Linked DNA regions of Homo sapiens: region 1 is linked to region 2. Evidence: fine-mapped QTL for protein levels in blood plasma. Region 2 holds a variant in brackets. A gene starts in the other region. All regions are shown on their forward strands. Region 1 holds the start of EGFR (epidermal growth factor receptor). Region 2 overlaps SH2B3 (SH2B adaptor protein 3).

The links. PIP is the posterior inclusion probability: the model's chance that the variant is causal. The UK Biobank Pharma Proteomics Project read protein levels with antibody pairs (Olink). The fine-mapping took linkage between variants from a reference panel, not from the people measured, so its PIPs are less certain.
Region 1: EGFR starts here. The variant in region 2 is fine-mapped to the plasma level of the EGFR protein (UK Biobank, PIP 0.95).

Annotation. Positions count from the first base shown.
Region 1 is chr7:55,006,987-55,022,422 of GRCh38, forward strand. EGFR (epidermal growth factor receptor) reads left to right here and starts at 12,031. Exons shown (of 28, transcript NM_005228.5): 1 at 12,031-12,379. The coding sequence starts at 12,292. It overlaps LOC105375284 (a long non-coding RNA gene), which reads right to left and starts at 11,936. Exons shown (of 4, transcript XR_007060329.1): 1 at 9,575-11,936. RefSeq lists an enhancer at 13,031-13,705.
Region 2 is chr12:111,406,485-111,417,724 of GRCh38, forward strand. The region is part of intron 1 of SH2B3 (SH2B adaptor protein 3); the gene reads left to right. Among named protein-coding and RNA genes, the nearest start is that of SH2B3, 6.2 kb to the left of the region's middle. RefSeq lists a silencer at 3,473-3,622 and enhancers at 6,715-7,562, 11,183-11,240. The variant C/T (reference allele first, on the strand shown) is at 668.

The DNA of each region.
Region 1 (15,436 bases), not on the chromosome of region 2:
GCAGGCACTGAGGATTCCAATGCTTGTGTCACCACTAACTAGTTGTGTTTGACATTTATTTTAACTGTGGATAGCAAAACATCCTATTTTTTATGGTGTTGAGAAACCAGTGAAATTATTGATTATGGAAGAGTAGAAAGACTTTTCGTCTTACACATACACACACACACACACACACACACACATCCCTGGTTAGCTTAGGTGACCTTTTGTAGATTGACTGTAAGTTCTGCAAAGGCAGGAACTAGTGAGTGACCCCATATATCCTGCCACCTCTGGCTCTTGATAAATGAGTGTTGAGTAAATGCCATTTACTCCAACTCTGAATTTTAATCAAATAGCCAACAACCCTGAAAACTCCTATGTGTTTTATTTTATTAATAAAATATTATTTATTAATCCTTTGTCTCTTTGTGAAACAAGTAATTTGGACAAGGTGCTTACCTTGTCATCTAAAAAATGGCGAAGAACTATCTGTGAGGTCCCTCCCAGGTTTGTTTCAATGACTGAGGCTTTGTAAGCTCAGTCCCTTAAAAGTAACAACTGCAAGAATTTCTGCTGATTTTTTGGAGGGGCCCTAGAAACTCTAATTTTCCATTCAATTGCAGAAATAGAACACCAATTTGCTTTGGATTTCTCTAGCCCTGTCATTTTTAGCCTACATATTTTTGACCTTGCAGACCCTCCAGATTTTCTGCCATCTAAAAATGCCACTTGAAATCTAGCTTCTGGAGACCTCCTCTCAAAAGCGATTTATTTCCTTCTATAGTACATGTGGAAGCTTCATTCCCTCTGTTTATATTCCTTGTGAAAAAAAATAAATAAAGTGACACAATTTTCTCAGTTGGTGACCTGCCTTGAGTTTCTCCTTGGAAGAATATAAGCTTGAGAATAGGTCTTTGCTCCAGGACCTTTATTACATAAGATGAGACATAATTACAATAATTAAAATAATGAAATCAGACATAGCTAAAATGCTTCAAAATGTCTCTTTAGTTGTGTCCTAATAAGCACTCATTCTCACTTATTACAGTTTATAGACAAATTAGCCAGACAAAACTTGCTGCTTTGTAGGATTGGCAGTGAAGTTGACTCCAGCCACCTTCCTAAACCTCCATCTCCTACCCGTGATTACCTGCAAAGCCAACTCATGTTCAACTCATGGAACATGGTCATTCCACATGTACCATAAATTAATGGATAGATCCTTTTTTCTCTGTTCTGCAACAGAACTGAATTTGCTTCCAGAAATGTTTAACTGGTTTTTAGAAAGTCTGCCTATAAGGATAATCATGAGCTGTGATAAACATTTGTGCTTGAATATTACTCCATATTTGAAATAGGCAATTTAAAGAGATGTCTATCATGATATATAATGTATTATGGCATCTGGACAAAAACCTGTTAACAAAAACATATGTACACATATATGAGATGAGAGAGAGAGACGAATGAAGAAAGAAAGATAAGGAGAGGGGAAAAGCAGAGATAGGAAGCATACCTATAAAGTGGCACTATCATGATTTAACCACGGGGGATGAGTTACAAACTCTAATGCCTACAGTGACCTCACAGACCCATGAACAAGAGAATCAGGATGGCAGCTCCAGCGTGAACTGGAGATCAAATGTACCTCCTAAAGAGGACAGTTACCATTTAGCCACCTGCCATCTTCCATGAAAGCAAACACAGTTAGCCAACAATTCCCATTTTCCGAGAGAAACACAAAGTCTACAGTTTAAATGTAAAACCTTCTGATTTTTAAGTGTTGCCATTAATTAAACTAAAAGGAACATTGAATGGACTTCACAAAACTACATCTGTACCCTGAACTTGGTTTTCAGACCACCAGTTACAATCTCCAGGCTAGTGTTTCTAGTAACATCTGTCCCTGAAACAAGCTACAATACCTTGAACAAAATTATTTAAGCTCATTTGTAAAATTGTCACTAGGGGGGAAGCATTGTGAAGGATACAGAAACCTTCTATAAGATCCCTCTGCAAAGTAATTAACAAACATCTCAACGATGCTGAAACTAGCATTCAAACATGCAGTCATGTTTTTTTATTGTTGTTGTTAATTCATAAACTTTATTTTTAGAGCAGTTTTAGGTTCACAAAAAAGTTGTGCTAAAAATATAGAGAGTTTTTGTATACCCCTGTGCACACACATACATAGCATCCCCCCAAAAGTGGTGTCTTTTTACGACTGATTACCAACATTGACACATCATTATCACCCAAAGTCCATAGTTTATGTTAGGGTTCCCTCTTGGTGTTGTACATTCAATGGGTTTTTACAAATGTAAAATGACAGGTATCCACCACTGAAATATGGTATAGAATAGTTTATCAGCCCTAAAAATCCTCTATGTTCTGCCTATTCATCTCTCCTTCCCGCCAACCACTGGCAGCCACTGATCACCTTACCGTCTCCATAGATTTGCCTTTTCCAGAATGTCATATATAGTCATGCATCACTTAACAATGAAAATATGATCTGAGATGTGTGTCATTAGGTGAATTTGTCATTGTATGGTCATAACAGAGTGAACTTACACAAGCCAAAATGATATAGCCTACTATACATCTAAGTTATATGGTATAGTCTATTTTTCCTAGGCTACAGACCTATCTGACATGTTACTGTACTGAATACTGTAGGCAATTATAACATAGTGGTAAATATTTGTGTATTTAAACATAGAAAAAGTACAGTAAAATTATGGTATTATAATCTTATGAAACCACTATTGTATATGGGTGCCATTGTTGACTGAAATGTCATTACGTGGCACATGACTGCAGCAGGAATCATAAAGTATGTAGCCTTTTCAGATTGGCTTCTTTCACTTAGCAACATGCACATAAGTGTCCTCCATGTCAGTTCATGGCTTGATAGCATATTTCTTTTTAGCACAGAATAACAATCCATTGTCCACATGTACCATGGTTTATTTATCCACTCATCCACATGAAGACATCTTAGTTGATTCTAAGTTAGGGAAGTTATGAATAAAGCTGTTATAAATATTCATGAGCAGATTTATGTGGACAACAGTGTTCAACTCATTTGGGTAAGTATCAAGGAGAGAAATCATTGGATCATATGGTAAGAGTATGTACACTTTTATAGGAAACTGCTAAGCTGCATTCCTAAGTGGCTGTACCATTGTGCCTTCCCATCAGCAATGAATGAGACTTCCTATTGTTCCACATCCTCATCAGAATTTGGTGTTGTCACTGATCTGAATTTTTTCCATTGTAACAGATGTGTAGTGGTATCTCACTGTTGTTTTAATTTGCAATTTCCTAATGACATATGATGTTGAACATCTTTTTATATGCTTACTTGCCATCAGTGTATCCTCTGATGAGGTGTTTGTGTAGGGCTTTGGCCCATTTTTAAATCAGGTTATTTATCCTCTTATTATTAACTTTTAAGAGTTTAGTTCTTTGCATATTTTGGATAACAATCCTTTATCACATATTTCTTTTGCAAATTTTTCTCCAGTATATGGCTTGTCTTCTTCTCCTGGCATTGTCCTTCTCAGAGCAGAAGTTTTTAATTTTAATAAACTCCAGCTTATAAATTATTTATTTCATGGATTGTGCCTTTGGTTTTGTACTTAAAAAGTCATTGTCATACCTAAGGTCATCTAGGTTTTCTCCTACGTTATCTCCTAGGTGTTTTATAGTTTTGCATTTTACATTTATATGTATGATCAGTTTTGAGTTAATTTTTATGAAGTGTGTAAGGTTTGTATCTACATTCATTTTTTGCATGTGGATGTCCATTTGTTCCAGCAATATTTGTTGAAAAGACTATACTTGCTCTATTGTATTGTGTTTCTTTTTTGTCAAAGATCAATTGACTAAATTTATGTGCGTCAGTTTCTGATCTCTCTGGTCCATTGATATATTTGTCTATTCTTTCACCAATACCACATAGTCTAGACTACTGTAGTTGTATATGTCTTGAAGTCAGGTAGTGTTGATCCTCCAATTTTGTTCTCCAATATTGAGTTGGCTATTGTGGGTCTTTTGCTTGCCCATAGAATCAATTAGTCAATATTTACAAAATAACTTGCTCGAACTTTGACTGGGATTAATCTATAAATCAAGTTGGGAATAAGTGACATTTTGACATTATGGAGTCTTTCTGACCATGAACACAAACTATTGATCCATTTATTTAGTTATTTGATATCTTTCACCAGAGTTTTTTTGTTTTTTTCTTATAGATCTTATACATATTTTCTTATATTCATACCTCAGTATTCCATTTCAGGGTGTTAATGTAAATGGTAATGTGTTTTTAATTTCAAATTCCCTTAGTTCTTTGCTGGTATATAGGAAAGTGATTGGCTTTTGTATGTTAACGTTGTATCCTGCTCACTTGCTATAACTGCTTATTAGTTCCAGGAGCTTTTTTATTGTTTCTTTTGGATTTTCTAAGAGACAATTACATTATCAGTGAACAAACACGATTTATTTCTTCCCTCCCAATCAGTATTCATTTTATTTATTTATTGTGTGTTATTGCATTAGCTAGGACTTCTAATACAATGTTGAAAAGCATTGGTGAAAGGAAACATCCTTGCTTTGTTCCTGATTTTAGCTATAGGTTTTTGTAGCTGTTCTTTATTAAGTTGAGGATATCCTTCTCTATTCTTAGTTTGCTGAGAATTTTTATCATGAATAGGTGTAGGATTTTGCCTAATGTTTTCTTCTGTATCTATTGATATGATCATGTAATTTTTCTTTATCTATTGATATGATCTGTTGATGTGATGAACTACATTAATTGAGTTTTCAAATGTTGAACCAGTCTTGCATATCTGGAATAAATCGGAGTTGGTCATCATGTATAACTTTGTTACACTTTGTTGCATTTGATTTTGTAATATTTTCTTGAGAATTTTTACATCTATGTTCATAAAAGATATCGGTCTACAGTTTTCTTTCCTTTCTTGTAATATCTCTGTCTGGTTTTGCTATTAAGGTAATTCTGGCTTCACAAAATTAATTATGGAGTCTTCCCTCTACTTCTAGTTTCTGGAAGAGATTGTAGAGAATGGATGTAATTTCTTTCTTAAATGTTTGACGAAAATCAGCACTGATCTCATCTGGGCTTGGTGCTTTCTGTTTTGGAAGGTTATTAATTATTTATTCAATTTCTATAGTGGATATAGGCCTATATTGATTGGCAATTTCTTCTTGTATGACTTTTGGTACATTCTATTTCAAGGAATTGGTTCATTTCATGTAGGTTGTTAAATTCGTGGGTATAGCTGTTCATAATATTCATTTATTATCCTTTCAATGTTCATGAGATCAGTAGTGATGTTCCTTCTTTCATTTCTGATATTCATAATTTGTGTATTCTCTCTTTGTTTCTTAGCCTGGTGAGAGGCTTATAAATTTTATTGATTTTTTGAAGAATCACTTTTTGGTTTTGCTGATTTTCTTGCTGGGATTATAGGCGTGAGCCACCACACTCTTGCTCATTTTTTCTATTTTTGTTTTCCACACTTTTTCTGCCTCTGTGGATTTTACACAGCATTTTGTATAATTCGATTTCCTCTTTTTAGCATAGCAATTATTTTAGTCTTTAACTTTTTAAAATCAGTTGCCCTAGATTTTTTTCTCCCAACATTTTGGGAGGCCAAGGGGAGAGGATCACTTCAAGCCAGGAGTTTGAGACCAGCCTGAGCAACATAGCAAGGCACTATCTATACAAACATAATTTTAAAAAGTCCAGGCATTAGCTAGGACTGTGCCTGTAGTCCCAGCTACTCAGGAGGCTGAGATGAGAAGATCACCGGAGCCTAGAAATTTGAGGCTGCAGTGGGCTGTGATCATGTCACTTCACTCCTGCCTAGAAGACAGTTAGACCCTGCCTCTAAAATAAACAAGCAAATAAATAAAAAGAAAGGAAGAAAAGAAGAGCAAGGGCAGCAAATAGAAAATAGTAATAAATATGGTAGCTATTAATCCAACTATGTCAATAATTACCTTAAATGTTAGTGGTCTAAATATACTGCAATGGACTGAATGTTTATGTCTCCTCAAAATGTATATGATGAAATGTAAGCTCCCAAAATGATGTTATCAGGGGAGAGTGTTTTTGGGAGGGGATTATGTCATGAGGGTGGAGGCCTTACAAATGGGGTTAGTGCTATAAAAGAGACCACAGAGAGCTGCCTTGGTCCTTCTGCCATGTGAGGGCACTGTGAAATTATGGCCATCTATGAAGAAGTGGGCCCTTATTAGACATCAAATCTGCAAATACCTTGATCTTGAATTTCCCAGCCTCCAGAACTATGGGAAATAAATTTCTGTTGTTTACAAGTAAATCATTTTATGTTATTTTGTTACAGAAGCCCAAAAAGATGAAGACATACACCAGATCACTCCATTCTCTTCTTGCTTGCATGGTTTCTGAGGATACGTTGGATGTAATTCTAATATTCTCTATAGGTATTTTCTTTATGGCTCCTCTACAGGTAAGGTGTTTTTTCCCTTTGGCTTCATTTAAGAATTTTTCGTTAACCTTTGATTTTCTGAAGTGTGAATATGTTATGCCTAGGTATCATTTGTTTGTTTGGGTTTTCTTGGCATATATCTTCCTGATGTTCTCTGAACTTCCAGAATCTGTGATTTGTTGTCTGACATTAATTTGGAGGAATTTTTGGTATTATTGCTTTAAATATTGCTTCTGCTCCTTTTTCTCTTTCTTTGACTTACAGTATTCCCATTACATGTAATTATCTCACAGTTCTTGAAAGTTTTGTTTTGTTCTTTTTGTTAGTCGTTTTTCTTTCTGTTTTTCAGTTTTGGCAGTTTCTGTTTACGTATCTTCAATCTCAGAAATTCTTTCCTCAAGCATGTTCAGCCCACTAATGTGTACTTCAAAAGTATTCTACATTTCTTTTACAGTGTTTTTGATCTCTAGAATTTTTAAATTCTTTCTTAAAACTTTCATCTCTCAGGAATTCAAGACTAGCCTGGGCAACATAGTGAAACTCTATCTCTACAAAACATTAGCCAGGTATGGTGATGCATGCCTGTAGTCAGAGCTACTCAGGAGGCTAAGGTGGGAGGATCACCTGAGCCTGGGAAGTTGAGGTTGCAGTGAGCCAAGGTCACGCCACTGCACTCTGGATTGGGCAACAGAGCCAGACCCTGTCTCAAAAAAAAGAAAAATTCCATGGCTCTGCTTACATTATCCATCTGATCTTACATGTTGCCTATTTTTTCCATTAAAACTCCTAGCCTATTAATCATAGTTTTTTTATAATTAATACTCCGATGTGATAATGTCTTAGTCCAATTACTGTGGTTATAACAGAATGCCACAAACTGGGTGATTTATAAACAAAAGAAGCTGATTTAGGCTGATTTAGAGGCTGGGGAGTCCAAGAGCTTGGTGCTAGCATCTGATGAGTGTCTTCTTGCTTCATCATAACATGGGAGAGGGCATCACGTGTGAAGAGAGCTTACTCTTATAACATAGCCACTCCCACAAGAATTAACCCACCGCCATGAGAGCCATGTGAATTCATTCATGAGGACAGCGGGTTAAGTTTCCAATATATGGACTTTTCGGGGACACATTCAAACCACAGCAGTTAGTTGTAACGTTCGTGTCATGTCTCATTCTGGTTCTGATGCTTGTGCAGTCTCTTCAAACTGCGTCTTTGCCTTTTAGTGTGCCTTGCAATGTGGAAATGATATACTGGGTAAGAGGAGCTGTAGTAAAGAGGCTTCTAGTGACGTAGTGACAAGCTGTGGGGAGAGGGAGTGTTGCACAGTCCTGCCGCATGTCACAGTCTTCCAGTGAGCCTGTGTCCCTGGACTGTGAACTTCATGCTTGCTTCTCAGCTTCCCCAGCCCCTTAGATGGTACAGAACTGTTGGAGGGGGGTGGAGTTGTATATTTCCCTTGCTCTGGGTAGGTCACCCTCTGATAAAACACCAGGTTAGGCCTCTGGTGAAATAATTTCTCCTGAGGGCAGACCTTCTATTAATAATAGAATGTTCCAACCTATTTCAAAATGGTTCCTCTTCTCCTTCCACTGCCAGAAGCATAATGAGATTTTCCCCCTAATATTCGTGGTAAGGACCTAGCAGAGCTCCAGGAGGTAACACTCTCAAGTGTCTCATACTACCCTGCACCATGACTGGGCTCTGCTGGAGTTCTTAATTTGCAGAACTGCCCACACTGAGCCTCCCGCAATTTCTCAATTACAGGGCAAACTTTCCCAGCCGGCACTGGGTCCTTGGAGGTTTCTGTCTGCTGGTTTCTTCCTCTGGAGGTTGTGCTTCTGTGTTTGCCTGTCTCTCCAATTTGGGGGGCAGTGGTTTGCCCAATGACCTCAATTCTCTGAAAGAGCTAAGAAGAGGTGTTAATTTTTCGGTTTGCTCAGCTTTCTACTTGTTGCTAGAATGGAGCGCCAATAGTGCCTCCTATAGTGACATGTAACCCTCAACTCTAGAGATGATGAAGCATACTAATGACAAAGGAGAAATGCTTCAGCAGTTTTCTGTCAGCACATTACCCCTTGAAAAAGCTGCTTCTTCCACATTCTGCAAGAGATGGGTCTCAACTCAGAGCTCAAGGCAAATGACTTCCTTCAAGGAGAAGGAATAAACAGTCTCAGAAACCATGAAAGCCTGCCCCCAGGAGTGTCCCTGAACCTCAGCAGGGGCCACACTTACCTTGCAGAAATAGGTGAGGCATGCTCCTGGTACAAAATCCCAATGGTACAGAAGGACAAATTGAAAAACAAGTCTCCCTCTAAACCCCTGACCCCGAGCTACCTAGTTCTCCTCCCTAGAGGCAAAGCTGTTACCAGATTCTTGTATCTCCTTAACATATATCCTTAGAAGAGCTGTCAAGTGAACACATGTTTAAGTGAAAACCTATTTTAGAAGTGCATTTTCTTAAGGAACTTTAGGGTTGGAAGGAACCTGTGTCAGTCCTTAATTCACAACCTCCATTAGTACTTATTGTTCTTGCACAAAAATCTTTCTCAAAAAAGCCCTTTCCACTCTGACATAGCTTATTCTACTTTTACTTAGCTCCAATAACTTATAAAACATATTTTTGAAAGTCTAAAATCTGCCACTATGTTTTTTTTTCCTAATCAATCTTTACTTTGACCTCTAAGCCAGAGAAAACAGGTGGTCAAATGCCTTTTGCCTAAGATGGAACTTAGAATATTTGAAGACCTCAGATCTTCACCCTGCCAAATAACGTGTTTCTCCTCCCCTTTCACAGAGCATTTGGTTTTAGGAAATTCAGAGCCACATTCCTTATAGACAAGACTAAACTCTTATTCAACATACTCAGAAACTTCTTCTAAGAGGATAACCACTCATCAGAGGAAAAAAGTTTCTCATGTACAGCTGGCAAAGGGATGGAACCATCTGTGTTATTAAAATTGACAGACGCTTATGAGATTTATTAAGGGAAATACTAGAGTCTTAGTACATACTTGCTAATATAGCATACATGAAGGCTTTATCTATAATTTTTTTGGCCAAGCAGAAATTTTGGTATTACTCACCCTAACAAATTTCCAAGACATTATGAAATAGAATTTTAGGTCCTGACATCACCATTTGTCTCAGGTTTTGAAGCGTTGCTGGACAAGAGGGGTAAAACACGGCTCTGCCTTGGATTCAAAGTTGGCCTCTCATACTAGCAAGTATACCTTGGTATCCTGGTCACTTCTCCCGGCCACAGCATCACATTGCTATAAAAGGCAGATACAAGTATTAACCAGCTCACAGGTTATCAGATAAGCTTAGTCTGACCAATGCTTAACACAGCAACTGGGCCACTATTGTCATTCCTGTGGTGGTGGCACACACACCCAGCCTCTGTCCGGGCCATGGTCTAGGACCACCCTCCACAGAGGCTGTGAGCTAGAGCCCTAACTGTGCAGGGCCCTAACTATGCCAGGCTACTTATCTCTCTTAAGAGGACTTCATTAGTGCCTGCTCGGCCATACAGTTTTTTACTTACCAAGTAACACAGTTATCAGCACACTCCAGGTACTAGCCAAGGACTACAAAATCAACGTGAATGTCAGCTTTTGTATCAAAAGCTCAAAGGAGAAACTCAAACTTTACATAGATGTCCCATGAAGATGTTCAGCAAACCCATTCTTCTCTGTTCCCTGGAATCCATCCCAGTATTGTGCTATGTGTGTGTCTAGTAATTCTTTACAAAAAGCTCTGTTTCTTGTGATGCTATCAGATCACATTGAAGAATATACAAGCCGTACTATGAAGGCTGTTGTCTCATATAGTCCTAACGTAGTGAGAACTGATGTTCTTACATGCTGTCTTTTTGGGCACTCAAAGAAATTCCTGTACAGTCTTACAAATCAGTTGTAGCTTAAATTGATTTGTGTTGTGACTTGTACACACAGGTCACATTCCCTTGACAGAAAATATAGTTTAAAACCAAATTTGCAGCCCTTGTTAAGTGAATGCACAGGACTTTATTGTATTCAGGTCTTTTATTGTAAGACTCACTCCTGTCTTCATTTTATGTTCCACTGTTGTGCTTCCCATTTGCCTTTCTCTAGTTTTGTTTTCTGTGTTTCTACGGACTGCTCTCAGCCCAGGTGTGCAGGAAGCACACACATGCCTGCAGAGCCTTCATGGCCTCTGCATTCAGGGCATGACTTCAACGCACAGTGGCTGTACTGATTTGTTAAAACAAAGGAACAGATTACTTCTCCTAATTCACAGGGAAGTTCCAGGTTGTGCGGGCAGTGAGCAGACCTGTGTCTGTCTGCGCTTGCCCTGGTGAAAAACCCCACCGTTCAGGCTGCAGGGTGCGAGACCCAGGCACAAACATTTTGCTGGATGAGGAGGAAAGATGTAAGGTTGCTCCCCTTCAGAGACAGCAAAGGGCAGGTCTGTAGCTTCACTTACTTCAGGATTGTGATTTTTGACAGAGCCGAGAGATCAGGGTTGTTGAACCAGGCCTGAAGGTCCTAGTGAATCTCGTGAAGAGAGGAGGGGTCTGGCTGTAACATGGACCTAGAGGACATTTTTACTGCAGGAGAAGGAACAGTGGGGATGGGGTGGACTTGCCAAAGGAATATAGCTCAAGTTCCTGCAGCCCAAAAAAGCTCAGTTTCTTTTGGCCAAAGCTTCCGCGAGTTTCCCTGGCATTTCTCCTGCGGGAGCTACAGGGGCAGTGGGACACTTAGCCTCTCTAAAAGCACCTCCACGGCTGTTTGTGTCAAGCCTTTATTCCAAGAGCTTCACTTTTGCGAAGTAATGTGCTTCACACATTGGCTTCAAAGTACCCATGGCTGGTTGCAATAAACATTAAGGAGGCCTGTCTCTGCACCCGGAGTTGGGTGCCCTCATTTCAGATGATTTCGAGGGTGCTTGACAAGATCTGAAGGACCCTCGGACTTTAGAGCACCACCTCGGACGCCTGGCACCCCTGCCGCGCGGGCACGGCGACCTCCTCAGCTGCCAGGCCAGCCTCTGATCCCCGAGAGGGTCCCGTAGTGCTGCAGGGGAGGTGGGGACCCGAATAAAGGAGCAGTTTCCCCGTCGGTGCCATTATCCGACGCTGGCTCTAAGGCTCGGCCAGTCTGTCTAAAGCTGGTACAAGTTTGCTTTGTAAAACAAAAGAAGGGAAAGGGGGAAGGGGACCCTGGCACAGATTTGGCTCGACCTGGACATAGGCTGGGCCTGCAAGTCCGCGGGGACCGGGTCCAGAGGGGCAGTGCTGGGAACGCCCCTCTCGGAAATTAACTCCTCAGGGCACCCGCTCCCCTCCCATGCGCCGCCCCACTCCCGCCGGAGACTAGGTCCCGCGGGGGCCACCGCTGTCCACCGCCTCCGGCGGCCGCTGGCCTTGGGTCCCCGCTGCTGGTTCTCCTCCCTCCTCCTCGCATTCTCCTCCTCCTCTGCTCCTCCCGATCCCTCCTCCGCCGCCTGGTCCCTCCTCCTCCCGCCCTGCCTCCCCGCGCCTCGGCCCGCGCGAGCTAGACGTCCGGGCAGCCCCCGGCGCAGCGCGGCCGCAGCAGCCTCCGCCCCCCGCACGGTGTGAGCGCCCGACGCGGCCGAGGCGGCCGGAGTCCCGAGCTAGCCCCGGCGGCCGCCGCCGCCCAGACCGGACGACAGGCCACCTCGTCGGCGTCCGCCCGAGTCCCCGCCTCGCCGCCAACGCCACAACCACCGCGCACGGCCCCCTGACTCCGTCCAGTATTGATCGGGAGAGCCGGAGCGAGCTCTTCGGGGAGCAGCGATGCGACCCTCCGGGACGGCCGGGGCAGCGCTCCTGGCGCTGCTGGCTGCGCTCTGCCCGGCGAGTCGGGCTCTGGAGGAAAAGAAAGGTAAGGGCGTGTCTCGCCGGCTCCCGCGCCGCCCCCGGATCGCGCCCCGGACCCCGCAGCCCGCCCAACCGCGCACCGGCGCACCGGCTCGGCGCCCGCGCCCCCGCCCGTCCTTTCCTGTTTCCTTGAGATCAGCTGCGCCGCCGACCGGGACCGCGGGAGGAACGGGACGTTTCGTTCTTCGGCCGGGAGAGTCTGGGGCGGGCGGAGGAGGAGACGCGTGGGACACCGGGCTGCAGGCCAGGCGGGGAACGGCCGCCGGGACCTCCGGCGCCCCGAACCGCTCCCAACTTTCTTCCCTCACTTTCCCCGCCCAGCTGCGCAGGATCGGCGTCAGTGGGCGAAAGCCGGGTGCTGGTGGGCGCCTGGGGCCGGGGTCCCGCACGTGCGCCCCGCGCTGTCTTCCCAGGGCGCGACGGGGTCCTGGCGCGCACCCGAGGGGCGGGCGCTGCCCACCCGCCGAGACTGCACTGTTTAGGGAAGCTGAGGAAGGAACCCAAAAATACAGCCTCCCCTCGGACCCCGCGGGACAGGCGGCTTTCTGAGAGGACCTCCCCGCCTCCGCCCTCCGCGCAGGTCTCAAACTGAAGCCGGCGCCCGCCAGCCTGGCCCCGGCCCCTCTCCAGGTCCCCGCGATCCTCGTTCCCCAGTGTGGAGTCGCAGCCTCGACCTGGGAGCTGGGAGAACTCGTCTACCACCACCTGCGGCTCCCGGGGAGGGGTGGTGCTGGCGGCGGTTAGTTTCCTCGTTGGCAAAAGGCAGGTGGGGTCCGACCCGCCCCTTGGGCGCAGACCCCGGCCGCTCGCCTCGCCCGGTGCGCCCTCGTCTTGCCTATCCAAGAGTGCCCCCCACCTCCCGGGGACCCCAGCTCCCTCCTGGGCGCCCGCGCCGAAAGCCCCAGGCTCTCCTTCGATGGCCGCCTCGCGGAGACGTCCGGGTCTGCTCCACCTGCAGCCCTTCGGTCGCGCCTGGGCTTCGCGGTGGAGCGGGACGCGGCTGTCCGGCCACTGCAGGGGGGGATCGCGGGACTCTTGAGCGGAAGCCCCGGAAGCAGAGCTCATCCTGGCCAACACCATGGTGTTTCAAAATGGGGCTCACAGCAAACTTCTCCTCAAAACCCGGAGACTTTCTTTCTTGGATGTCTCTTTTTGCTGTTTGAAGAATTTGAGCCAACCAAAATATTAAACCTGTCTTACACACACACACACACACACACACACACACACACCGGATTGCTGTCCCTGGTTCAAGTGTGCCAAGTGTGCAGACAGAACATGAGCGAGTCTGGCTTCGTGACTACCGACCATAAACCCACTTGACAGGGGAAACATGCCTTGGAAGGTTTAATTGCACAATTCCAACCTTGAGCTGCGCGGGTTCCAAGAGCCAGGCCCGTACTTGCTGTTGATGTCATTGGCTTGGGGAGTTGGGGTTTGGTGCCCAGCGCGGTCGTTGGGGGAGGGGCAAGGCATAGAACAGTGGTTCCCAGACCTTGCTGCACATTGGAATTACCTGGGATTAAAAAAAAAAAAATCAAAACAAAAACCAGTGTCTGGCTCCCGCCCCCAGACATTCTGATTTAATTGGCATGGGGCAAGACCTGGACTTGGGATTTTTTTTAATGCTCTTCATGTGATCTGTTGGGCAGCCAGATTTGGGGATCACTAGACGGAAGAAGGATTGTTAAAGTCTCCGGAGATGTTACTTGCCAATGCTAAGAGCTCTTTGAGGACATCTGGAATTGTTACAATATTGCCAAATATAGGAAAGAGGGAAAAGGTAGAGTGTGATTCCAATAATAAAGGATTCCGCTTTTCATTGAAGGAACTGGTGGAAAGGTTTCTTCTCTGCTGAGCCTGCAGGCCCGTCCTGCCTGCCTGGGGTGCCCGGGAGACGCGGGCCTGCTCCGGAGACTGCTGACTGCCGGTCCTGTTAGTCAGGTGTCAGCCCTGTCTCTGCCGAAGAGACTCTTCTCTTTATTTTAAATTAAACCCTCAGAGCACCACCAAAGCATCACTTTTCTCCCTCCATTGGTGTTCTCATTCTTTGATGTTACTTGTTTGAACACCACTATTAGTAGTTGGAGATTTGTTCCTGAGAAAAATATAAATACCACTTAATTTGCCTGTTTGTCCCGCATTCACTCAAAACAGAATGCTCCTGAAGACAAGAGAGAGAGTAGGAGAACAGACGCTATTCCATTACAGTAACATAAAAGACTGGATTTTCAGGGGCAAATTATTAAAATAGGAGATGAGCTCTTTTAACAGAAATTTGTTTAAGGCCTGTGTCTATCAAATTCAGTGGATTTTATTCAAGATGCACTTTGTTTAGTGGGAGTTTTGTTTGGTTCTGGGACATGCTAACTTCTAGACTTGCTGCTCTTAGAGGTAATGACTGCCAGACACCATTTCATGAGTCCTAATCCCCACATTAAGCATAAGAGGTGCACACTCTCCTCCTATGGGGGAAACTGAGGTACGAAGAACTAAAGTGACTTTCCCACAGCTGGTGGGAGGCAGACGGGAAATTCACACCAGGGGCTTCCAACTCCAGATCCCTCTCTCAACTTCCAAACTCCACTGCCTTGTCCGAGTTCTGGTTTCAGGAGATCCAAATCAGGTGTGTGCAAATGTCTAATGTCAGAGCTGGCAAGGGGAAAGGGCCCAGGGAGCCGGCTCATGACGATGAGCCTGTCTGAAGCTTCAACGCGGGCTGTCCGGCAGTCTGCATTCCTGCCGAGTTCCTCAGCCCTCTGTTGGGTCACCTTCCATAGAGGCAGCTTAGTCCTCAGTTCAGTGAGCATGGAGTGGAGACTGCTTGAGGGGTGCTGAGCAAAGCCCTGCCTCTTACAGGATGAAGGTGCTCTCCAGAAGGGACACTGGAAAGTATTCCAAGGCGAGTCGAATTCCCAACTGAGGGAGCTTTGTGGAAATAAGCCCGCCCAGCCCCACTTCTGGAGACGTTCCCATTCAGTAGGTCCGAGCTGTCTTAAAGAGAAACCAAAGTGGGGATATTAATGGTATCCAAAGTGAGATCTACCCCACCCTCCCTCCT
Region 2 (11,240 bases):
CACGTGTTAGGGAGAGCGTTGGGGTAACTGAGGCCGTGGGATGGGGGAGAGGGCATCGCTGACGCCCCCAGCCCACCCTACGGTAGCCTCGCCGGTTGGGGGCGGCCCTCCCCTCAACTTGTGCCTGGGGAGGAGCGGTCAGGGGTCACCCATTGCTACCCTGAAAGTGAAAGTAGTCAAACTGAGGCTGTGAGCACAGATGAGCCCTTGGGTGTGGGGGCAGCGGGGGAGGATGCGCCGGCCCCTCCCCACTCCCCATTCCGGGCCATGTGGCTAAGAGGGTAGCGCCCTGATTCAGGAAGCCCCTCTCCCCAGTTCCTGCACTGCCGAGGTCGACCGGGCCAGGCCCCCGCATGCTGCTGAATTGGGCGGTTCACCAGGGCTAGGCGTCCCAGAGACAGGTTTCTGGTATTGATCCTCTCACACCTCTTGCCTGGGGTTCCCTGGGAATCCCCCGACCAAAAAACGTCTGGAGTGGGTGTTGGTCTTCTAGATCCGCACGGTAGGGATGGTATTTCAGAGGTCTCTGATGCCTGGTGCAGAAATCCCCTTCCCTCCCTTCCCTCCCTCCGGCCAGGGGAGCTTTGTTTTGAGGGAGGGGGACTGCATTTGAGGAACTGGAGAGGAGGGTCTGCCTGCCTGTCCCGCTTCTTTTTTTCTTTAGTTT[C/T]CTCATTCTCCTGTTTCTCTTCCCCATTCCCAGCCACAATGATGTAGGTGAGGAGGTCACTGCCTGCAGCTGGGGGCCTCCAGGGAGGGGCACGGCCAGGCTGGGCTGAGTGGGAGGAAGTGAAATCTGGTGGGGGGTTCAGAGCAGAGGCCCCGGCAAGGCAATGTCGGCAAGGCCAGCTTTGGTGGCAGGAGGGACCGAGATCTGACCCGCAGCCCCTCGCCGGGGAGATGACAGTTCCCTAACACCGGCTAGCAGCCAGGCCTCAGGGCCCCTGCCAGGGCAGTGGGCCTGTGGGTCTCCAGGGATGCAGGCGCAGGTTGTGTCTGGGTTTCCCATCACTGACCTGGCTGCCTGAGTGGAAACAGCTCTGGAGGCTCCTCGGGACCTGCCCTCGTGGAGGGAGAGCCGTCAGAGGCCACCTGGGCAGGCTGGGCTCGGAGGATGAGAGCCAGGGCCTACTGGGGGAAGTTGGAAGGGTTTTTAGTGCACTTTTCCTGAGCCTTTTCCCACTACCCCCTCTGGGAGGGAAAATCCTTCTGAGCCAAAGGGTGAGCATTCCTAGAACTTTTGTGAGTCCCTGTGGGCCACAGAGCGGCCAGCTGGGAAGGGGCTGGCTCAGAGCATCAGCAGCTGGGGGCTCAGGGTCTGCAGGGGCTCAGCAGGAAGTGGAGGAGGATAGTGAGGAGGGTCCTGGAGACTGTGCTTTGCTACTCCTATTGCCTTCGTTCAGCTGAAGGCGTGGGCAAGTGACTCTGCCCTCAGTTTCCCTCTGTGTAAAATGGGGGAGTAACAGGTTTGCAGTGGAGATTTAATGAGCCAGTGTGTAATGAGCACCTGCTGCCTGGCAAAGAGAGGTTCAGTTGCAGGTGGTGGTGGTGGTAGTGGTGATTTTATCATTGCCTTCATTAGTGTTACTGTTATTGGCTATGAGGTGTTCCTTCAGTAGTCTCCCTTGAGCATCTCTTGCATACATAGCACTGGAATTTCCTGGGTCTTTGGGAGCAGAATTTTGAAGATCTGGGCACTTCCTTAGCTATAAGGCCTTGCTTAACTGCCCCACCTCAGTTTCCTCATCTGTGAAATGGGTGTGCTAATAGTACCTACTTCCTAGAGTCATGGGAACCATGAATGAGTGAATTCACAGTGTCCAGAGTGGCTTGGTCAGGAGGAAGAGAAGAAGTAGCCTTGGGGCCGGAATGATCTTTTTTGTTGTGGGTGTTAGCTCTGCTGGCTTTCTTTCCTCATCCCCCCACCCCCACCCCCATGCCTCTCAAACCTGGGCCTGATCCTCCTTCTCCGATAAATAGAACTTTTGAGTACAAATCAGATCCCACAGGACTGCTGGGCCCTTGGATTTCTGGCTCCCGCTGTGCCACCCCCAGACATTCTCCATATCCCAGGTGGAGCAGAGCTGGAGGCACTTGGAGGGACCTCCTCGCTGCCAGTCTCAGTGCCACCTGTCTGTGGTGAGGGGAGACCGGGTGCCCTCCCCAGCCAAGGTGGGGAGGGTCAGTGAAGGGGGTCTCAGGGACATAGTAGGGAGCTGTCCCACAGTCTGGGCCAATACAGCTCCTTTTGCTGGAAACACCTTTGGGACCCAGTTTACATGACCCCACACCCTTCTGAGGGCTGGTGTTCATGAGGGTCTCCCATTGCTGGGGATCCTTGGGTTGATCACTTAAGCTCTCTGAGGCAATTGAGACAACATCTGTGAAAGGCTTTAACAGCTGTGCACTTGCTGTGACATGGCACATAAGGCACTGAGCGCTGAGCCTGGCACTCAATTAACAATAGTAGATATTATTGCTATTAATAAAACAAGAGGCTTTTCCTGCTAAATTCCCACTTCTCCCTGGTAGCAGTATGGACTTTGGGGCCAAATCTGGGCTCTGCCAGCTTCCAGGTGTGAGGTCCTAGGCAGGTTACCTGGCTTCTCTGATCTGGACCTCGCCTGCCCGATGGAAGCCAAGAGTTCCAGCCTCCCCAGGGTTGGGTGTGTGAAGTACAGTGTCAGGACTGGAACTGTGTTGGCTGTACTTGCTCTGGCTGTGTGATCTTGGGCTGGTCCCTTAGCCTCTCTGAGCCACAGGTCTTTTTGTCTATGAAATAGGGGGGTTGCCAACTCCCTGTTAGGGTGGTTTTGAGAAAAGGAGGCATGCACAGTGCCCGGCATGCAATTGGCACTCAATAAGTGCAAGCCATTGCTGTTCATGCCCAATAGGGGCTGGCACTTAATTGCCAGGTTTCCTGGGAAAACGGTCCCCAAGGGCCCGCGGGCGTTCAGCATCTTTGACGAGGCAGGGCAGGAAGCCGCTGCCGTCTGGCAGACCGGAGACGCCTGCCTCGGCGAGTCCAGAGGTGCAGTGCTAGCTGCTCATTCCCTGCAAGGCCCCATTCCTCACTACCCACCCTTCCCAAGGAAACTGAGGCGGGCAGGCTGCCCAGGGGAAGTGACTCAGCCGGGGTCACTTGCTGAGTCAGGCCTTATTGGACCCAGGAGTCCTGCACCCCACCTCCCCAGCTTCCCGGGGCTTGAGATCCCTTGGAGACTGAGCAGGTCCTGAGGCCTGGCAGCAGGACCAGGCCACCACTGGACATCTGCTCAATGGGGCCCTGCTGCCGGGGTGACAAGCATCCCTCTACCAGGGCTCCAGGGTTCTGCTGGCCACCACTAGCCATCCTTCCTCCCAGCAGGGGCAGAGGACACTTCCCCAGGGGAACAGGTCCTCCTGGTGCCCCCCCACTCCCCGCCCCAGCCGGAAACCCGGCAGCTGAGCAGTTAGATAGAAGATTTTTCCTCCCACGCCACCCTGTCAGGGGTCGGCCAGCAGGGCCGGGCCACAGGCTTCCTTGTGAGCCAGGCCTGGAGCCCCTGGGGGCCCACCCGGATGTGGCTACCCCCCGGCTGGCCAGTGGGGAGCCGGCTGCTGCCCAGGACATGTGTCCCCAGGGAGGCCTGGGAGGAAGGAAGTCTATGCCCTCCTCACAGGGGCTGACTCACAGGCGCCCAATGGGGGGCCCCAGCTGGGAGACTGGGAATGTGATCAATCAGGGAGGTGGACACACAAGGGGACCTCTGACATGGGATCTGCCCTTTCAGAGCTCACACACTGGTGTCATCTCAAGGAGGAGAGGCCCAGAGAGGGCAGTGTATGCTGCGAGAGGCGAGGTAATTGAGGGCTTACGCATGTCCCTCCTGATGTCCCCAAGTAGCACGTGGGGAGGAGGTTCACCCACAGGCTGCCCTCCTAGGGTCTCCCCTGTCTGCCCTCAACCCAGAGGCAGTGAAAGGAAGAAGCCACGGCCTTGGGATGGGGGGCGTGCGGGATTCTGATGGTGCTGCCTCTCCGCAGGGAGATGGTTCTTGGCTTTCCCTACCTCCTGAAACCTAGCTGGGGCGGTGGCTGGGATGTCAGGCTGGCGGTGTGGGCAGAGGAAGCCAGAGGACATTTCCTGTTCTGGCAGACTGTGCTGGCCTGATAAATGTCCCCGGGGCACAAGGTGACCCCAGCAAGGGTGCATCAGTGTCCAGCCAGCTGCCCCGTGGCCTGGGGTAGAACCCACCTCTCTGCCTCCCCAGGGACCCTGCCTTCGCCCCCTGCTTCCCGTGGGCATCTCTGCGTCTGGCAACTTGAATGCTGTGAAAGGGCAGCAGGCCGCCTGCCAGGCAGTGTGTGTCAGAATCCCACAACTCTCTGGGCCTCCTTAGGCCACAGGGTCTGGACTCTATGAACAGTTGGTGCTAGGCATGGGGAAGATAGAAATGTTCCTTGTGGCCTAGATTCAACCAGGAGGCCTCCCTGGAGGAAGTGTCCCCTCTGAAGGTGTGAGACTTCCTGCCTATATCTGTGAGCTGGGGCAGGGGAGAGTGGAGGCTCTGGACTGGCCCAATTTAACTTCATTTACCACACTTTAAGAAATCTTCCCCAGGCTGGGAGCAGTGGTTCACACTTGTAATCCCAGCACTTTGGAAGGTCAAGGTGGGAGGATCACTTGAGCCCAGGAGTTTGAAACCAGCCTGGGCAGCATAGTGAGACCCTGTCTCTACCAAAAAAAAAAAAAAAAAACTGGGTATGGTGGCACATGGCTGTGGTCCCAGATACTTGGAAGGACTGCTTAAACCCACAAGGTCATGGTTGCAGTGAGCTGTGATCATGCCACTACACTCCAGCCTGGGTGACAGTCAGACCTGTCTCAAAGAAAGAAAAAAAAAAAAAAATCCTCCCCAAGCCTCAGCAGGGGAATTCCTACCATGGATAAAGGCTTTCTCTGCATGTGGGCCTGATCATTAAAAGGAAAATTTCAGCCTCCCGAATTATACTATTATCCAGGGTGATTAGATAGAGGAGAGGCTGAGAAGCCCTGATCTCAGCGGGGCATGGATTAAGGGGACCCCACAGCTCAGCCAGGTTCCCAGCGATTCAAGGTCCTGCGATTTCTCACCGACTTGGTGGCTCCAGGGTGCCTGGGGCTGGCTGTGCTTCTTGGGGAGCACCAGGTACCACTGCTGCTTCGAGGCCCTCAATAGCCCTTTGGTGGACCCGGTTGTGTTCTGAGCTTGGGGTCCTGAGATGCAGACACCCCCCAGCCCCAGCTGGTGGGCGTGCAGCTAGCTGCCTTCATGTATTTGCTGCAGGGAGGGAATTGGGGGTGGGGGACAAGGATGCACCAGGCTGAGTTATTCCTTCTGCACATCATCCTGCCCCTCACCTGGCTGCAGGATTTGGGGAAACCCTGGAGACCCCCATAGCTGGGAGGTTCCTGCCCCAGAAGGAAGCCTGAGCAGGTGAGGGGGGTCTCCTGGGTGCTAGGGCCCCTCTGTGGGGAAGGTGGTTTATTTCTCTGGCTGACCAGGCTCCCCCGAAGCTCTGTGCTGGGATAGAAGTGTCCCAAAGACACCCTGCCCCCAACTCATACCCTACAGTCGAAGCCTGAGGGCCCCAGGTCCCCCTGGCGTGATCATCATTGCTTCCTGTCCACAGCTTGTCAGCCCCTGATCCCAGGGTTGTCACCATCTGATCAATTGCTTTTTCTCTGAGCCTGGCACATAGTAAGCACTCAATAAACGCCACTGCCTGGGCCAGGGTCAGGGAGGGATCCACCTTCCTGTGGCCTGGCTGCCCTCCTGGCCAAAAAACCTCCCTGGTACAGTCCCTTCCATAGCTTGGGCTACAGCTGACTGCTCTGGGCTGGCAACTTCCTGCCCGGAGCAGCCTGAGCAGCCGCCTCTCCCCTGAGAAGATCTTTTGTTCCAGCTCCCCATGACGCCCCGAGCCCAGCCCATGAGGCAGGCCCCCCTGTGGCTTCCCATGGCGGGCGAGCCTGACTCCGAGGCTGGAGCTCTTTTCTAACAGTGATAGTAAGAAAATAGCAGCAGCCACTTATGAGCCCCATGCCAAGCACACTGCAGACATCAGTTCTTTTTTTCTTATAGAGATATGGTCTGCTTCTGTCACTCAGGCTGGAGTGCAGTGGTGTGATCACAGCTCACTGCAGCCTCGACCTCCTGGGCTCAAGCAGTCTTCCCGCCTCAGCCTCCTGAGTAGCTGGGACTACAGGCCCAGCCACCATGCCAGGCTAATTTTTTTGTATTTATAGTAGACATAGGGTTTCATCATGTTGCCCAGCTTGGTCTCGAACTCTGGGGCTCAAGCAATCCTCCCGCCTTGGCCTCCCGAGGTATTGAGATTATAGGTGTGAGCCACTGAGCCCAGCCTCTCATTTTTGTTTTCTTCCTTTTGCCCTGTGACAGTTTTCCTGATCATTGGTGGGTTTGGGACCTGGACAGAGCTACTGCCGACTCCTGACTCCAGCTGGAGCTGAATGAGACTTTTATATTCTCTCCTCTGGGACTCACTCATTCATCCAATAAGCATTCATTGGGAAGTGAGCCCTTCTTGTGTGCATTTAGGCACTGATCAGACATTTTGGGGGTCCCTTCTGTGTGGGGGTCTCTATAATCACTAGCTATGGGGCCGCTCTGTTTCAGCTTCCCCATCTGTAAAATGGAAGTAATCGTTGGACCTACCTCCTAGGGCTGTTAGGAACCTTGGAAGAGGTAATATTTTGTAAAAGTAGTTAGAAAAATGCCTGATATGATCTTGGCATGGTGCCATGAGCCTGTAGTTACAGCTACTCTGGAGGCTGAGGCAGGAGGATCTCTTGAGCCCAGGAGTTCGAGGCAGCAGTGAGCTATGATTGTGCCACTGCACTCCAGCCTGGAAGACAGAGTGAGACCCTGTCTCTAAAAAGAGAAAGAAAAATGTCTGATGTGTAGCAGACGCTCAGTAAATGCCATTGTTCTTATGGGAGGACTGGTGGAAGGGGCCCAATGAGGGGGGTTCCCAGCCGTTGCCTGGGCAGTGAGGGACCTGGAGTGGGCGCAGCTGTTTTGAGGAAGGCTCCTGCCAGGGTTTGGCCCTGCAGTTGGGCTTCAAGACTCTGACATACAGGACTGTGCGGAAGGTAGGACGGCCCAGGGGGCGGGGGAGGTTGGTTCATGCTGGTTGCCACGCATCTGCCGGGAGAGCAAGAGTTTGCAAATCCAACTGATCTCTTGCATTCATATGTTCATTCATTCAAGAGGCATTCATTGAGCTCCTGCTGTATGCTAGGAGCTGGAGATGAAGCAGGGAATGACTCATGGAACTCAGTCTGTTGGAGAGATAGTCACTAATAAAAGCATCCTGTCAAGTGATAATGTGTGACCAGTGTGCTGAAGGTCAAGTTCAGTTGGGAGCTCAGAAGAGGCTTCTCTTATGTGCAATTGGAAGCAGACAGGGCAGAGGGAATGGCTCATGCCAACACCCACAGGCAGCTGGCGTGACTAGCGGCAGATCGTGTAGGTGGGGCAGGAGCCTGGGTCTGGAATCACAGCTCTCTGGGCATCCTCCAAGCCACGAGGGCAGCGCCTGTCTCACCTGTGTCAAGGCTGGGTGTGGGGAACAGTAGGATTGACCAAGAACAGGTGCCCTTATGCAGGGGTTAGACCCTCCCCCCTTCAGGGACAGGAAGAACATGGTGGCCAAGGGCAGATGTGGCCCCTCCCTCTCCCTTCCCATCTGCCTGACAGCTTTTAGTGACTACTTACTGTGTGCAAAGTACCTACTGTGTGCGGGTCCCAAGGACCCTGTGATGTACAAAACTGTCGACTGTAGCAGGGCACGGTGGCTCATGCCTGTAATCCCAGCACTTTGGGAGGCCAAGGTGGGAGGGCTGCTTGAGCCCAGGAGTTTGAGACCAGCCTAGGCAACATAGTGAGACCCCATCTCTACAAAAAATACAAAAATTAACCAGGTGTCGTGGTGTGTGCCTGTAGTCTTAGCACTTTGGGAGGCCAAGATGAGGATAGCTTGAGCCTGGGAGGTCTAGGCTGCGGTGAGCCATGATTATGCCACTGCACTCCAGCCTGGGTGACAGAACAAGACCCTGTCTCAAAAAAAAAAAAAAACATTGTCGACTCTGCATGGCCCCCTTCCATCGAGGGCAGAGGCACCTACTTGTGCTTTTTGGGGTTTCTTGTGGAGATCGGCTGTGGGGGTTCCACCATGGCCTCATGTGACAGGGGCACCCTTTGTTGCCACTGCCCTGCAGACATGCCCAGCGGGACATGGCCACATGCAGAGACGGTGCCTGTGGAGGGGTGTGTGGCAGAGAGAACCCCATTTGTAGGTTCGCATCTCCACCTTGCATTCCCTTTCATGGGTTCCTTACAAGGTGGATGCCATGCTGCCACCTGGTTGGCAGATGAGGAAATCCAGGTTCAGAGAGGTTGAGTCAGGCATCAGGAGCCACACAGCCAATACGTGTCCCCCTTTGTAATGTGAGCCCTGGGAGAGCAGTGTTCGTCTGTGCTGTTCACCGTGGTATCTCAGGGCCTAGCCTGGTGTCTGGCACACAGTAGGCCCTCAGTAACACCTGAAGAGAGGATGAAGGAGGGCGTGATTGGAGGCAGCAAATGTACCCAGGCCCCTGTGGCTCTGTAGCTTGTGTTGTGCAGCCACTACCCCTGCCCAGGGAGGGAGTCACTGGAGTGGCACTGCTGTTCATTCAGGGTGTGCTGATATCAGGGATCTGGGGCCCAGTTTTGTGCCTGAGTAGGGAGAGCATTTCTTCTCCATCTTGAAGAGCGACATGGATATGTGGTCTCCAGCAGGGGCCCAGGCCCAGCGAGGGTCAGGAGGAAGGAAGGATGGTGCCCACAGAGGTCCCAACTGTTCTGCACCGTGGACAGCAGAGGGGTGGGGGGTCTCAGTGCCATTCTGGTGATGTTGTGCCTAAGGAAAGGCCCTCTGGCCATGGGAGGAGAAGGATGCCCCAGTTGAGATGGGCAGGCAAAGGTCTGCTAGTCCTGAGGGTCCCCTGTCAGTGCAGGAAATCCCTCTGGACCCCCGTGACTTTTGTTAATTTATTCCTTTTTATTTTTTGTTTTATATTTATTTTTGTTTTTGTTTTTGTGTGTGTGATTTTTTTTTTTTTTTTTTCCAGGACAGAGTCTCGCTCTGTCACCCAGGCTGGAATGCAGTGGCATGATCTCAGCTCGTTGCAACCTCTGCCTCCCAGGTTCAAGTGATTCTCCTGCCTCACCCTCCCGAGTAGCTGGCATTACAGGCACACACCACCACACCCAGCTAATTTTTGTATTTTTAGTAGAGGCGAGGTTTCACCATGTTGGCCAGGCTGGTTTCGAATTCCTGACCTCAGGTGATCCACCCACCTAAGCCTCCCAGAGTGCTGGGATTACAGGTATGAGCAGCTGCCCCCGGCCCATTTATTTATGTATTTATTTATTTATTTATTTATTTAGAGACGGAGTCTCGCTCTGTTGCCCAGGCTGGAGTCCAGTGGCGTGATCTCGGCTCACTGCAAGCTCCGCCTCCCGGGTTCATGCCATTCTCCTGCCTCAGCCTCCCCAGTAGCTGGGACTACAGGTGCCTGCCACCACCCCCCGCTAATTTTTTTGTATTTTTACTAGAGATGGGGTTTCACCGTGTTAGCCAGGATAGTCTTGATCTCCTGACCTCGTGATCTGCCTGCCTCGGCCTCCCAAAGTGCTGGGATTACAGGCGTGAGCCACCGTGCCCGGCCCTATGTTTATTTTTTAGACACCAATAATATACTCTCACCGCAACATGGAAATAACAACAATGTCAGCCAGTCTTTATGAAGCATTTTCTACGTTCTAGGGCTTTACAGCTATCAATTCATGCTCATAATATGCCTATGAAGTAGGCATGATCATGGTTCCCCTCTTACAGATGGAGAAACTGAGGTAGAGAGTAATCATGTAAGTCACTTAAGGTCCCATAACTAATAAGTTGTTGCTGGTTTTTTTTTTGTTTTTTTGTTTTTTGTTTTGAGACGGGGTCTTGCTCTATCACCCAGGCTGGAGTGCAGTGGCACCATCTCAGCTCACTGCAACCTCCACCTCCTGGATTCAAGCATTTCTCCTGCCCCAGCCTCCCAAGTAGCTGGGACTACAGGCGCCCGCCACCACAGCCGGCTAATTTTTGTATTTTTAGTAGAGATGGGGTTTCACCACGTTGGCCAGGCTGGTCTCTAACTCCTGACCTCAAGTAATCCACCTGCCTCGGCCTCCCAGAGTGCTGGGATTACAGGCATGAGCCACCGCGCGTGGCTGGTGCTGGGATTTGAACCCACATTCCAGAATCTGTGTTCTTAGCCATCCTTGCTAGAGATAAGCAGTAACAGGCTTCTTGGTTACTTCCCCACCATCCCCACATCCCAATTCTGATTCCTCCCCAGAGGTACCCACTGTTTCAGGATGAGTTTGCTTCTGCCAGACCTTTCTTGCCCACCATTTACAAAATGTTTGTGTACACATAAACATTAGTAGTTTGGTTTTATGTATGTTCATGTAAATGGGATTGTCTAGGGTGTCTTGTTCTGCCGTTTGCTTTTTCGCTTAGTGAATAGCCCTGGAGCTCTCCCAGAGGTGGTGGGGTGGGTCTTCCTCACTCTTTCCCCCTGATGCAGTCTTCCAGCCTATAGATGGGCCAGATTCTTTCACTAGTCTCCAGCTGGTGGGCATTTAGGTTGTTTCTAGTTTTTCCCCATTATAAACGTTTTAGCAGGAAATATGTAGCAGGGAGCAAGTATTTCTCTTGAATACTTAAAAGTGGGATTCCTAGAGCCTGATTGCTCTGGCTAGGACTGTCAGTACTGTGTTAAATAGAAGTGACCAGAGTGGGCATCCTTTTCTCATCCCTGGCCTTAAAGGAAAAGTTGTCAACTTTTCACCATTAAGTACAATGTTAACTGTGTGCTTGTCATATAGGGCCTTTATTTTATTTATTTATTTATTTATTTATTTATTTTTTGAGACAGAGTCATTCTGTTGCCTGGGCTGGCGTTCAATGGCTGATCATGGCTTACTGCAGCCTTGACTTCCTCAGGCTCCCAAGTAGTTAGGACTACAGGTGCACGTGCTGCAATGCCAACTCATTTTTGTGTTGGTTTTTTTGGAGAGATGGGCTTTCACCATGTTGCCCAGGCTGGTCTCAAACTCCTGGGCTCAAGTGATCCTCCTGCCTCAGCCTCCCAAAGTGCT